3 linked regions of the Homo sapiens genome follow. The protein of the gene in region 3 interacts with the protein of the main gene of each other region in a pairwise test. Each region holds a gene or a part of one and is shown on either strand. Other genes may lie near its edges. The genes, in order: ATL1, ASB3 and PPT1.

Evidence for each region.
Region 1: the proteins of PPT1 (region 3) and ATL1 interact in binary tests that used the Homo sapiens proteins (3 or more experiments, as listed by UniProt).
Region 2: the proteins of PPT1 (region 3) and ASB3 interact in binary tests that used the Homo sapiens proteins (3 or more experiments, as listed by UniProt).

Annotation. Positions count from the first base shown.
Region 1 is NC_000014.9:50,626,118-50,629,873, reverse strand, and holds part of ATL1 (atlastin-1), read right to left. Parts: intron 1,844-3,756; coding exon 1,412-1,843; intron 1-1,411.
Region 2 is NC_000002.12:53,675,272-53,679,027, forward strand, and holds part of ASB3 (ankyrin repeat and SOCS box protein 3), read right to left. Parts: intron 1-3,756. UniProt on the Homo sapiens protein: Probable substrate-recognition component of a SCF-like ECS (Elongin-Cullin-SOCS-box protein) E3 ubiquitin-protein ligase complex which mediates the ubiquitination and subsequent proteasomal degradation of target proteins. Recognizes TNFRSF1B.
Region 3 is NC_000001.11:40,095,361-40,099,116, forward strand, and holds the start of PPT1 (palmitoyl-protein thioesterase 1 isoform 1 precursor), read right to left. Parts: upstream 1,893-3,756; 5' UTR 1,879-1,892; coding exon 1,755-1,878; intron 1-1,754. UniProt on the Homo sapiens protein: Has thioesterase activity against fatty acid thioesters with 14 -18 carbons, including palmitoyl-CoA, S-palmitoyl-N-acetylcysteamine, and palmitoylated proteins. In contrast to PPT2, PPT1 can hydrolyze palmitoylated proteins and palmitoylcysteine.

The sequences.
Region 1 (3,756 bases), on a different chromosome or scaffold from region 3:
GATTTTTCAGTTTAGATTACATATTTTATCAGAATCTTTGAAGAACTCAATTCTGTATTCCTCATAGGTTTTAGCATAACATAAGTCTAGGAGGGTTTTGACATTGACCTCAACCCCTCTTAAATCTTTTGTGGTTGAGGGACTATTTCAGAAAGTGGCTCAGAGGATCCAGTTTTTACTTCATTCATTTCCCATTGTGCTACCACTAGTTTATCTCAGCTAGATCCTTCAAAGGCACGTTACAATTATGTTATAAAGTATATATAAGTAGGGTTTTTTTTTTTTTTTTTGGGAGATGGAGCTTCACTCTTGTTGCCCAGGCTGGAGTGCTGTGGTGCCATCTCGGCTCAGTGCAACCTCCGCCTTCTGGGTTCAAGCGATTCTCCTGCCTCAGCCTCCCGAGTAGCTGGGATTACAGGCATGCGCCACTATGACTGGCTATTTTTGTATTTTTAGTAGAGACGGGGTTTCTCCATGTTGGCCAGGCTGGTCTCAAACTCCCGACCTCAGATGATCCGCCCACTTTGGCCTCGGAAAGTGCTGAGATTACAGGCGTGAGCCACCGCACCTGGCCATAAGTATGTTCTTAATGCTGGAAGAATTGTAGCTATTACCTGCTGCCTACAGGTACAGAGACAATCTGAAGTAATCTGATACTGCTTTTGGAAGTTTTTAACTAAAAAAGAGAATGATATGACAACTTATGATAGTGGTTCAGATAGCTCCTAACAAAGCTAATGCTAATCAAATCATAGGTTGTAAATATGAGATAATGTTAACACAAGTCATAATTAGCTAAATAAAAGCTGTTGTCTCTTACAACTTTTAATAGATATAACATTTTTAGAATAATAAAAAGTAGGCTGGGTGGCTCACGCCTATAATCCCAACGCTTTGGAAGGCTGAGGCGCGCAGATTGCTTGAGGTCAGGAGTTTGAGACCAGCCTGGCCAACATGGTGAAACCCCGTTTCTACAAAAAATACAAAAACTTAGCTGGGGATGGTGGTATGCACCTGTAGTCCCATCTACTCGAGAGGCTGAGGCACAAGAATTGCTTGAGCCTGGGAGGCGGAGGTTGCAGTGAGCTGAGATCACGCCACTGCACTCCAGCCTAGATGACAGAGCAAGACTGCCCCCCTACCCAAAAAAAGAAAAAAAAGTATATATACTACTAAACTGATGTATATTTTTTTAAATGCTGAAATGTTAACTGGAAAATAGTTGTGTAGGACTTCACATTTTACACAGTATTATATAGTTAGTTGCTTGTATCTGGGCAGGTCATAACATTCTTGATGACTGGGGCCCAATTCCTGTTGATCTGTATTTCCAACATCTAATGCAGTGGCTGGCACATGGATGACATTCAAATGTGTGCTGAATTTAGTTGTGAATTAAAGGTGTTCTTACCTGGTCCCACAGAGCTGCAGCCACCTGGTCTATTACAGCTCCCAGCTCTCGGTATTCTCCAGAGTACCGGATATATGCCCAAGTGCACAGGGTGATAAGGGTCAGTCCCATTATCATATTGCATAGGCTAGCTATGATGTCCAAACCAATGAATCCAGTCACACCAGCAATCACATATGTGATAAAGATGACTACAAACAGTGTGGCTGGGGTACGAGCTGCATGGAAGATATTTTTGCTATCATTGTGCTTGATATATTGGATGTAAAGTTCATCTATTTCACTCTCCAACTGCTGCAGGTAACGCCGGCTAAATTCTTCCCCACCCATCTTCTTCACCCCTCGGAATAGCTTCACAGATTCTTCCTTAAGTTGCAGGTGTTTGGTCTGCAAGTCATTTGGGGCCAGAAATGGTTTGTCACCACCACAAATCTGTATCAGATAGAGAAGTATTTGTTTATGCAATGCAGAGTAAAATTGGCAACTGTATCAAAATTTTTCACTTAGCTAGTTGAGTTTGTTAGAATACGTTAATAATCAGGAGCCTGCATATATGTTTTGTCAGCCCACATCTTTCCACCCCCTATCCACGAGGCATGACTATAAATGGGACTGGTATTTTATAGGTGGCTTAAAATCATTTTAAATTTTTCTCTTTTTGACATGGAAAATAATATTTATCACTTAATCCAAGTCCTTCAAGATGAAAAGACGTGTGACACAACATGAAGTGCAAACTGAGTTCATTCACAGAATGAATCCAAATCTAAGAAAACTACGTATATCCAAATTCTAGGAAATCTAACTACACTGAAGTCATGTTAACCAATGAGGTTTAATAAACAATGATCAATGCTATAAAGCTCTCAAAGTAAACTGTGAAATACATTCTTTAGCAGTTTTACTGATTTTTATTTGAATGGAGCCAATTGAGTATTTTCTTCCAGAAACTAAGTTAGGAGTATATTAAATGTTCTTGAATAACATTTTCAATTTTTTGAAAAGTTACAAGGGTAATCTCAGTTAACCATACCATTCACTTTGGTTACAGGCATGCCTCAGAGATAATACATGTTTGGTTCCAGACCACTGCAATAAGCAAGTCACATGATTTTTTTTATTTCCTAATTCATATAAAAGTTATGTTTACATTATGTAGCAGTCTAGTAAAGTGTGCAGTAGCATATCTAAAAACCATGTACATAATTTAAGAACACTTTATTGCAAAAAATGCTAAGGATCATCTGAGCCTTCAGCACATCAATCTTTTTGCTGGTGGAGGCTCTTGCCTCGATGTCGATGGCTGCTGACTGATTAGGGTGGTGTTGCTGAAGGTTGAGGTGGCTGTGGCAATTTCTTAAAATATGACAACAGTAAAGTTTGCCATATTGATAGACTTCCTTTCATGAAAGATTTCTCTGTAGCCTGGGATGCCATTTGACAGCATTTTACTCATAGTAGAACTTCTTTAAAAATTGGAGTCAATCCTCTCTAACCCTGCCAATGCTTTATCAACTAACTTTATTTCATATTTTAAAGCCCTGGAAAGGAAAAGAGTAGGGGGAAGGGGATGAAGAGAGGTTGATTAATGGGTACAAATAAAGCAGTTAGAAGAAATAAGACAGTGTTCAATAGCTCAGTAGGGTGACTGTAATTAGCAATAATCTACTGTACATTTCAAAATGGCCAGAAGAGAATAATTCGAATGTTCCTAGCATAAAGAAATATTAAGGTGATAAATACCACACTTTCCCTGATTTGATCTTTACACATTATATGGATGTATCAATTTATCATATGTACTCCAAAAATATGTACATCTATTATGTACCAATAAAAAATATTCTAAACCCTTTGTTGTCATTTCAACACTGTTCACAGCATCTTCGCTAGGAGTAGATTCCATCTCCAGAAACCACTGTCTTTGCTTATCCATAGGAAGCAACTCCTTATCCGTTAAGAGAATACAAAATTGAGTCACATCTTCAGGCTCCACTTTTAAGTTCTCTTGCTGTTTGCACCACACATGCACTTCCTTCCTCCACTGAAGTCTTGGACCCCTCTCAAAGTCATCCAGAAGGGTTGGTATCAACTTTTTCCACATTCTTGTTGATATTTTTGCCTCCTATAAACCACAGATTCTCTTCATGGCATCCAGAATGGTGAATTTCTCCTGGAAGGTTTTCAATGTACTTTGCCCAGATCCATCAAAAGAATCACTATCTATGGCAGCTATAGCCTTACAAAATGTATTTCTTATTAACTTTTGAAAGTCAAAATTACTCCTTGATCCTGGGCTGTAGAATGGATATTGTGTTAGCAGGCATGAAAACATTAATTTCCTT
Region 2 (3,756 bases), on a different chromosome or scaffold from region 3:
ACAGAATCCAATATATATTTTACATATAAATTACATGTATACTATTAACCAAACATTATTTGTACTATAAAATAAAATAAGCCAATATAAAATAAGATATATACTTTAAATAATTTCATTTTTAAAGGTATAAGACTCCTTTAAATATTAATATTTTAACAAGAACAAGGTGATTGACTAGGCTTTATTAATGTAATTCTTAGTGATCTAGCAATTCAAAGAGTTGGTTCTAAGCCCAGTTTATTCTGATACATGGATGTAGCTGAAATAAGGTCTAAATGGGAGAAGTACACTGTGGCTTAGCTGAACTAAATCAGGATTCTATCTAGCCTATCTAGCAATTATGAAAAAGTTATTGTCAAAATTCATCTGGTAAATTTCTATTTTTTCCTGATATCAATCAGTTTATAAGCTAATCAGAAAGTTTTGCATTTTTACTAAATGGAGTTCAAAACAAAGGGGAACTATTTCCAAGTGTTTTAAGTATGTCAATGAAAGAGTTTTTCCAGGTGATATATACTACTTTTCACAAGAAAATAACGTAACAATAAAAATATTTCCTAGTACCTATTTTCAAAATCATCTCCACATAGCAAAAGTTTCTTTCATTGCTTGGCTTTAACCTGCATTGCAGGGCATGGAGGGGAGTTCCTTTCAGAAGGCAGTTACTTCTCACTCAGTTAAAATGTCATCTCTTCCCTAAATCAACAGAATTTTTACAAAATACATGGTAGGTTGCATAGCTATTTATCACCAAGAAAGAAAAAGCTCAAGAAAATTGGAAAAGCTGTATTTTTGTAAAAGAAAAGCACATAATTTACCTTTGAGCTTAAGGGTTCTTTTATATATTGTATCACAGACAATGAGCAAAACTATGGATGTATAAACAATAACTATGGTCACTCCCACCTCATTATAAAGTACTGCAAAGACTCTAATATATTTTAAAGGTCATGCTTTAGGAAAGTATCCACAGTGATACTACTTCGTGCAATTCTGGATTCAACTCTTCTCCTATACTAGCCTATGAATGATGTAGTAAACTCATTTCATGTTATCTCCATTACCTTACATTTGGAGAAAAGCAGCCACCACTCCTTCAATGGTCATTCTTACACACCTTTTCCAAAACACATCATTCTGTTAAATAAGCCATTACTGTTGCCAATACAGGCATACACTGCGTAAGGATATTTTAGTAAACGACGGACCACATATACGATGGTGGCCCCACAAGATTATAATGGAGCTGAAAAATTATTATTATCTAGTGATGTCACAGGTGTCATAACATCAACTAATTTTTTTATAAATTTAGTGTGGCCTAAGTATATGGCGTTAAAGTATACAGTAGCATACAGTAATGTCTGAGGCCTTCACATTCACTCTCCACTCACTCATTGATATCACCCAGAGCAATTTCCAGTCCTGCAAGTTCCATTCCTAGTAAGTGCCCTATACAGATCTACCATTTTTCATCTTTTGTGCTGTTTTGTTTGTTCGTTTTGTTTTGTTTTGAGACGGAGTCTCACTCTGTCACCAGGCTGGAGTGCAGTGGCACGATCTCAGCTCACTGCAACTTTGCCTCCCAGGTTCAAGCAATTCTCCTGCCTCAGCCTCCCGAGTTGCTGGGATTACAGGCGCCTGCCACCATGCCCGATTAATTTTTGTATTTTTGGTAGAGACAGGATTTCGCCATGTTGGCCAGGCTGGTCTCAAACTCCTGACCTCAGGTGATCCACCCGCCTCAGCCTCCCAAAGTGCTGGGATTACAGGTGTGAGCCACCGCGCCCGGCCTATACTGTATTTTTACTGTACTTTTCCTATGTTTAGAAACACAAATACTTACCAATGTGTTACAACTGCCTATAGTATTCAGCACAGTAACATGCTGTACAAGTTTGTGGCCTAGGAGCAATAGGCTATACTATGTAGCCTCAGGTGTGTAGTAGGCTCTACCATCTAGTTTATATAAGAATACTTTATAATATTTGCACAATGACAAAATCGCCTAACAAAGCACTTCTCAGACTGTATCCCCGTTGTTAATACACCTCACTGTATCTCTTTTCTGGTGCATTTTTCCTTTAGCAGCTCTTAAAAAATTGCCTATTCTCTCACTGAAAGAGAATCTTAACAAATACCCTAAGTTGTAACATGTTATAAATACCACAAATCTCCTTCCAACTTAGTACACCAAACTTTCTATCTGCAGGTTTTTTTTAAAAAAAAACTCTGCTTTAATGCTTTAGCAGTGTTTTCTATGCTCCTTTAACAACATTTGCTAATAAGGAATGCATTTTGTTTTGTCCTCATATTATTTCAGCCAGTTTTACTGTGGCAGGAGGAACATGAGTTTCCCCAATGGTCTGTGACTTTTTGTCTTTTGCTATTGAATAAGAAAACTCAAAAAGAGTTCTAAGCCTTTATCATTATGTTTAGTAAATTTTGTAAAAAATAATGCACTGGGCATCCTAGGACTTAAAACATTGAGAAAAAAAAATCACAGGGTTTGCCCTCATGTTCCGAATGTGTAGATTAGAGTGTCTTGCTGAGTATGGTTCTTCCATTAGCTAATTATCTCAAGGCACACTACATGTTAAGGACAAGGCTCACTGTTAAAGTAAAGGTGAGACTATATTTTAAATATTTTCTTGATAATTTTATATTTGTCAGTTGCAATTAGGTGGTAGTCATTTTTATTTTAGCTCTTTTTAGCTTTTTAAAATTTTTATTATTTTATTGTATATATTTAAAGTGTACAATGTGATGTTTTGTATGCTTATGTTGATATACCTACCATAATGAAGTGATTACTACAGTCAAACAAACATTAATATACCCATCATCTCATATAGTTACCTTGCTGGTGTGTGTGTGTGTGTGTGCATGTGTGTGCCTAAAATTTACTATCTTGGTAAATTACCAGTACACAACACAGTATTTTTAACTATAGTTCTCATGATCTCTAGAACTTCCTCATCCTACAAAACTGCAGCTTTATACCCTTTGACCTACATCTTTTCATTTCCCCACAACCATCCCGCCTTCAACCCGGTAACCCAGGTGGTCATCATTTTTATCACATAACATGCCTGGTAAATAACAAGAGAATGCAGCTCTACGATGATTATGTTGGTTCACTTGTGCTTGCACTTTTAATATTATCTACAGAAAATACTACTTCTTTACAGAAATCGTTTTAAGCCACTTGACCAATTTGTGAGAAGTGGTTAAATTAAAACTACAAAATATCATTATAGGTGCACTAAGCAATCACATATGAACAAAAATTCACTATAGCACACCACAAATGTGGTGGCACAGTCAACCCCATGCACCCGACTTTGGGAAATCCTGATGTAACCCCTACGGATATGTAGGTACAAGGCACTGGGCCATGTATGCTAAGTGGAGGATGGGAAGAGAGATAAGTCCTCGGGAATCCCCATTCTACCATGAACTCTGTATAGAACATTCTGCCTCCCCCTCTTCTCCTCACAAAAGCCTGATTCTTGCAAGGAAATTACTTCCTTGGCCAATTTTGAAAATACAATCTTCTCATTTTCCATGCCTTGCTACACCTGTTGCAAGGTCTGGGGGGCAATGTTAGCATTCTTATACTTCTTGTGCACCACTTCAGATCCACGCTTCTGTCTTTAAACTCCAACAGACACCAGTTTCTATTCTTCCAGAGTTTGCTCTCCCTTATTGCCACACCCAATCTTTAACATCATGGAGACCTCAGGTCCCAAC
Region 3 (3,756 bases):
TGGTCTCACCTAGCCTTTAACTACTAGCTGTATGCCGAAGACTCCCTACTTAAATCTCCAACCCGTATCTCTGTCCTAGACTCCACACTCCAAATGCCTCTACAACATCTCCTGGGTGTCTCATGAGGATCTCAAGTTTAGTAAGCCCAAAAGCAGACTCTTGATCTTTCCCCCACCCTAAGTCAGCTTGTCCTACAGGCTTCCCCATCTTGGTAAAATGAAAACTTCACCCTTCCAATTGTTCAGGCCAAAACCTGTGGAGTCATCTTTGGCTCCTTTCTTTCTCTCTTATTCCAAGTCTGATCTGTTAGCAATCCACCTTCAAAATCTATCCAAACTTTGACCACTTCTCAACACCTCTACTGTTACTCTACAGTTCCAAGTCATCATCTCTTGTTTAAATTATTGCAATAGTTTCCTAACCTGTCTCCCTGTGACCATCCATGACGCCCTACGATCTATTCTTAATACAGCAACTAAAGTGATTCTTTAAAAATGTGTCAGATCATGTCACTCATCTGCTCAAAAAGTTCCCCATGACACTCTAGCCAAAGTCCCTGCATTAGTCTTACTAGGCCCAATAACTTCTGTACCTGCCCCTCCCTTCCAAACTAAACTCCTAACTTCTTCCCCTTGCTTACTCATTTCCAGCCACGCTGATCTGAATGCTGTCCCTTGAACACACCAGACATACTTCCACATCAGGGCTTTCCCATTTACTGTTCCTTCTACCAGACAGCCAAATGGCAACTGTCCTCATCTACCTCAGTTTTGTACTCAGATGTCACTTTTTCAATGAATTCTTTCCCAACTTTGCTTTATTAAAAGTGCAAGCCCCCACCTCCAGTTTTTATCCTACACCCTACTATATTTTTCTCTGTTGCACATATCACCATTTGATATGTTATGTTTTACTTGTTAATTTCTTTATAATCTGCTTCTCCTACTGGAGAGTAGGTTCCAAAAGAACAAAGAATTTAGTCTGTTTAGTTCCCTACTGTATCCTCAGCACCTAGTAGGTGCTCAATAACTGTGTTAAATGAATATAGGTTGAGCATCCTAATCTGAAAATGGGAAACCCAAAATCTGAAAGTTTTTCAGCGCAGACATGATGCCACAAGTGGAAAATTCCACACCTGACCTCATGTGATGGGTTGCACAAAATTATTTAAAATATTGCATAAAATTACCTTCCAGCTATGTGTATAAGGTGTATATGAAAAATAAATAAATTTCCTGTTTACACTTGGGTCCCACCCCCCAGATCTCTTGTATATATGCAAATATTAAAAAAAAAAAAATCCGAAATGCTTCCCAGTCCCAAGCATTTCAGATAAGGGTTACTCAATTTGTAAATGAACTGTAGGTGCCTAACAAATCTCTGTTCAATGTGTGAAGGAATAAATAAAAGGGTAGATGCGCCAGTCATATAGCCAGCCGCAGCTCACCTAGCCTGACCAAGTGAGAGATGCTGCATCCTGACGCCACTACTGTAAGGATTAATCAAGGACAGCATGTAAAACTTCAACGCCGTGCGCGGCTCTCTCTTTCCTTCCCCTTCTCTCTTTCCAGTGAAGGGGACGGCTCCTTCCCCTTCTCTCTTTCCAATGCAGATCCTTCAAATCCTAAAATGTCGAGGCAGCCGCGTGCTGTGGGACCACGTCCTCGCCCTCTACACCCGCATTTTGCAGATGCGAACCCAGGCTAGGAAGAGAGAGAATCGCCAAACCCTTTTAAATTTCTCACTCACTCACCCATCCCATGCCAGATCACCAACGGCAGCGGCGCCGGCGGGTCCAGATGCTGCAGCGCCCGAGAAGCGCAGGTCCATGGCAGGAGAGCCACAGCCAAGAGCCACAGGCAGCCGGGCGACGCCATCTTCGCTGTGTCACATGACCGCGGGCGCGAGACTCCGGGAACCGCGCTCCGCCCGCCTGGGCGTGGCGCCGCCGGTTGCAGATCGCAACCTGCGCATCCCGAACGGATGCCCAGCCTGATGGGCGTCGGCCCTACCCTGGAGCTTTCAGCGCGACAGGTCCCCCGCCAGACCCCGCTGGCCGAGTGGGGCTCTGCGCTCTCGTAGACCGCCCTCTGCGGTGAATCAAAATAATTGCTAACATATATTCAGTGCTGATCAGATGCTATCAGGCACTATTCTTACAACCTTTAACTAATTCACTCTTCATAACAATGCTGTATGCACTTCTCCCCCTGACAGGTGAGGACACTGAGGCACTGCGAATTGGCACTGAGTAAGGTGCCCAAGGTCACAGAGATAGCAAATTGGTGGTTCCAAAGTCGTTGCTCTTCACCACTGCCCTGTACTGCCTTTGCAAGAAACATGCACAGAGGAAGGAAGAAAGAAGGAGGGACGGTTTCCAGCCAGGACCAATCATGGCAGGGTGTGGGGTTTGTTCTGGATATTGAAGGAGAGGTAGGATTTCAACAAGCAAAGATGAAATTCAGAAGGACTGAGATGAGCTAAGGTAGAGAGGAGAAAGACAACTGTGTTTTCTAGAAATGTCGGGACTTCAAGACGGACGAAAGCATATGTTGGATGCATAAGAGTGAGGGGGAAACCCATGGCCACTAACTGGCCTAATCTCAGCTGGATTATTTCAAGGGTCTCTCATCAACCATTTCCTTTTCCATTCTCTCCTCTTTAATTCATTTTATGCTCTATTGCCACATTCATCCCTCAATCCACCTTCATAATATCAGTTCCCTGCTCAAGTTTTTTTTCAACAAAACATCAAAAAATAGTTTAAATAATTTATAAAGAAATTAGAGTGTATCCACTATACAATGGAATAATATGAGGCCAGTTTTATAAAAAATGAGTATAGGGCCGGGCGCGGTGGCTCACTCCTGTAATCCCAGCACTTTGGGAGGCTGAGGTGGGCAGATCATCTAAGGTAGCGAGTTCGAGACCAGCCTGACCAACATGGAGAAATCCCGTCTCTACTAAAATTACAAAATTAGCCGGGTGTGGTGGCGCATACTTGTAATCCCAGCTACTCAGGAGGCTGAGGCAGGAGAATCTCTTGAACCCGGGAGGCAGAGGTTGCGGTAAGCTGAGATCATACCATTGTACTCCAGCCTGGGCAACAAGAGCAAAACTCTGTCTCAAAAAATAAGAATAAAAAATAAATAAAAAGAGAGTACAGCCCAGGCAGCATAGCAAGACCCCATCTCTACAAAAAAAAAATTTTTTTTTAATTAGCCAGGGGTGGTGGTATGTGCCTGTAATCCTAGCTACTGGGGAGGCTAAGGTGGGAGGATCACTTGAGCCCAGGAGTTCAAGGCTGCATTGAGCTATGATCTCGCCATTGCACTGAGCTATGATCTCGCTGTTGCCCTGGGCAACAGTGAGACCCTGTCTCTCTCAAAAAAGAAAAATGAGGTAAATTTACATAAAGTGACATGAAAAATGCCCTTAATATGTTGTAAAAGAAAAGTCGATTACAAACCCACGGTCTGTAATCTCTTCTATTCCATGCCATTGGGACTAGAGGTAAGTTGTTAGTTGAAAAGTCGATTAAAATGCAGAATCCACTGGGCGCACTTTGGGAGGCTGAGGCAGGTGGATCACCTGAGGTTGGGAGTTTGAGACCAGCCTGGCCAACATGATGAAACCCCATCTCTACTAAAAATACAAAAAATTAGCCGGGCATGGTGGTGGGTGCCTGTAATCCCAGCTACTCAGGAGGCTGAGACAGGAGAATCACTTGAACCCAGGAGGCAGAGGGTGCAGTG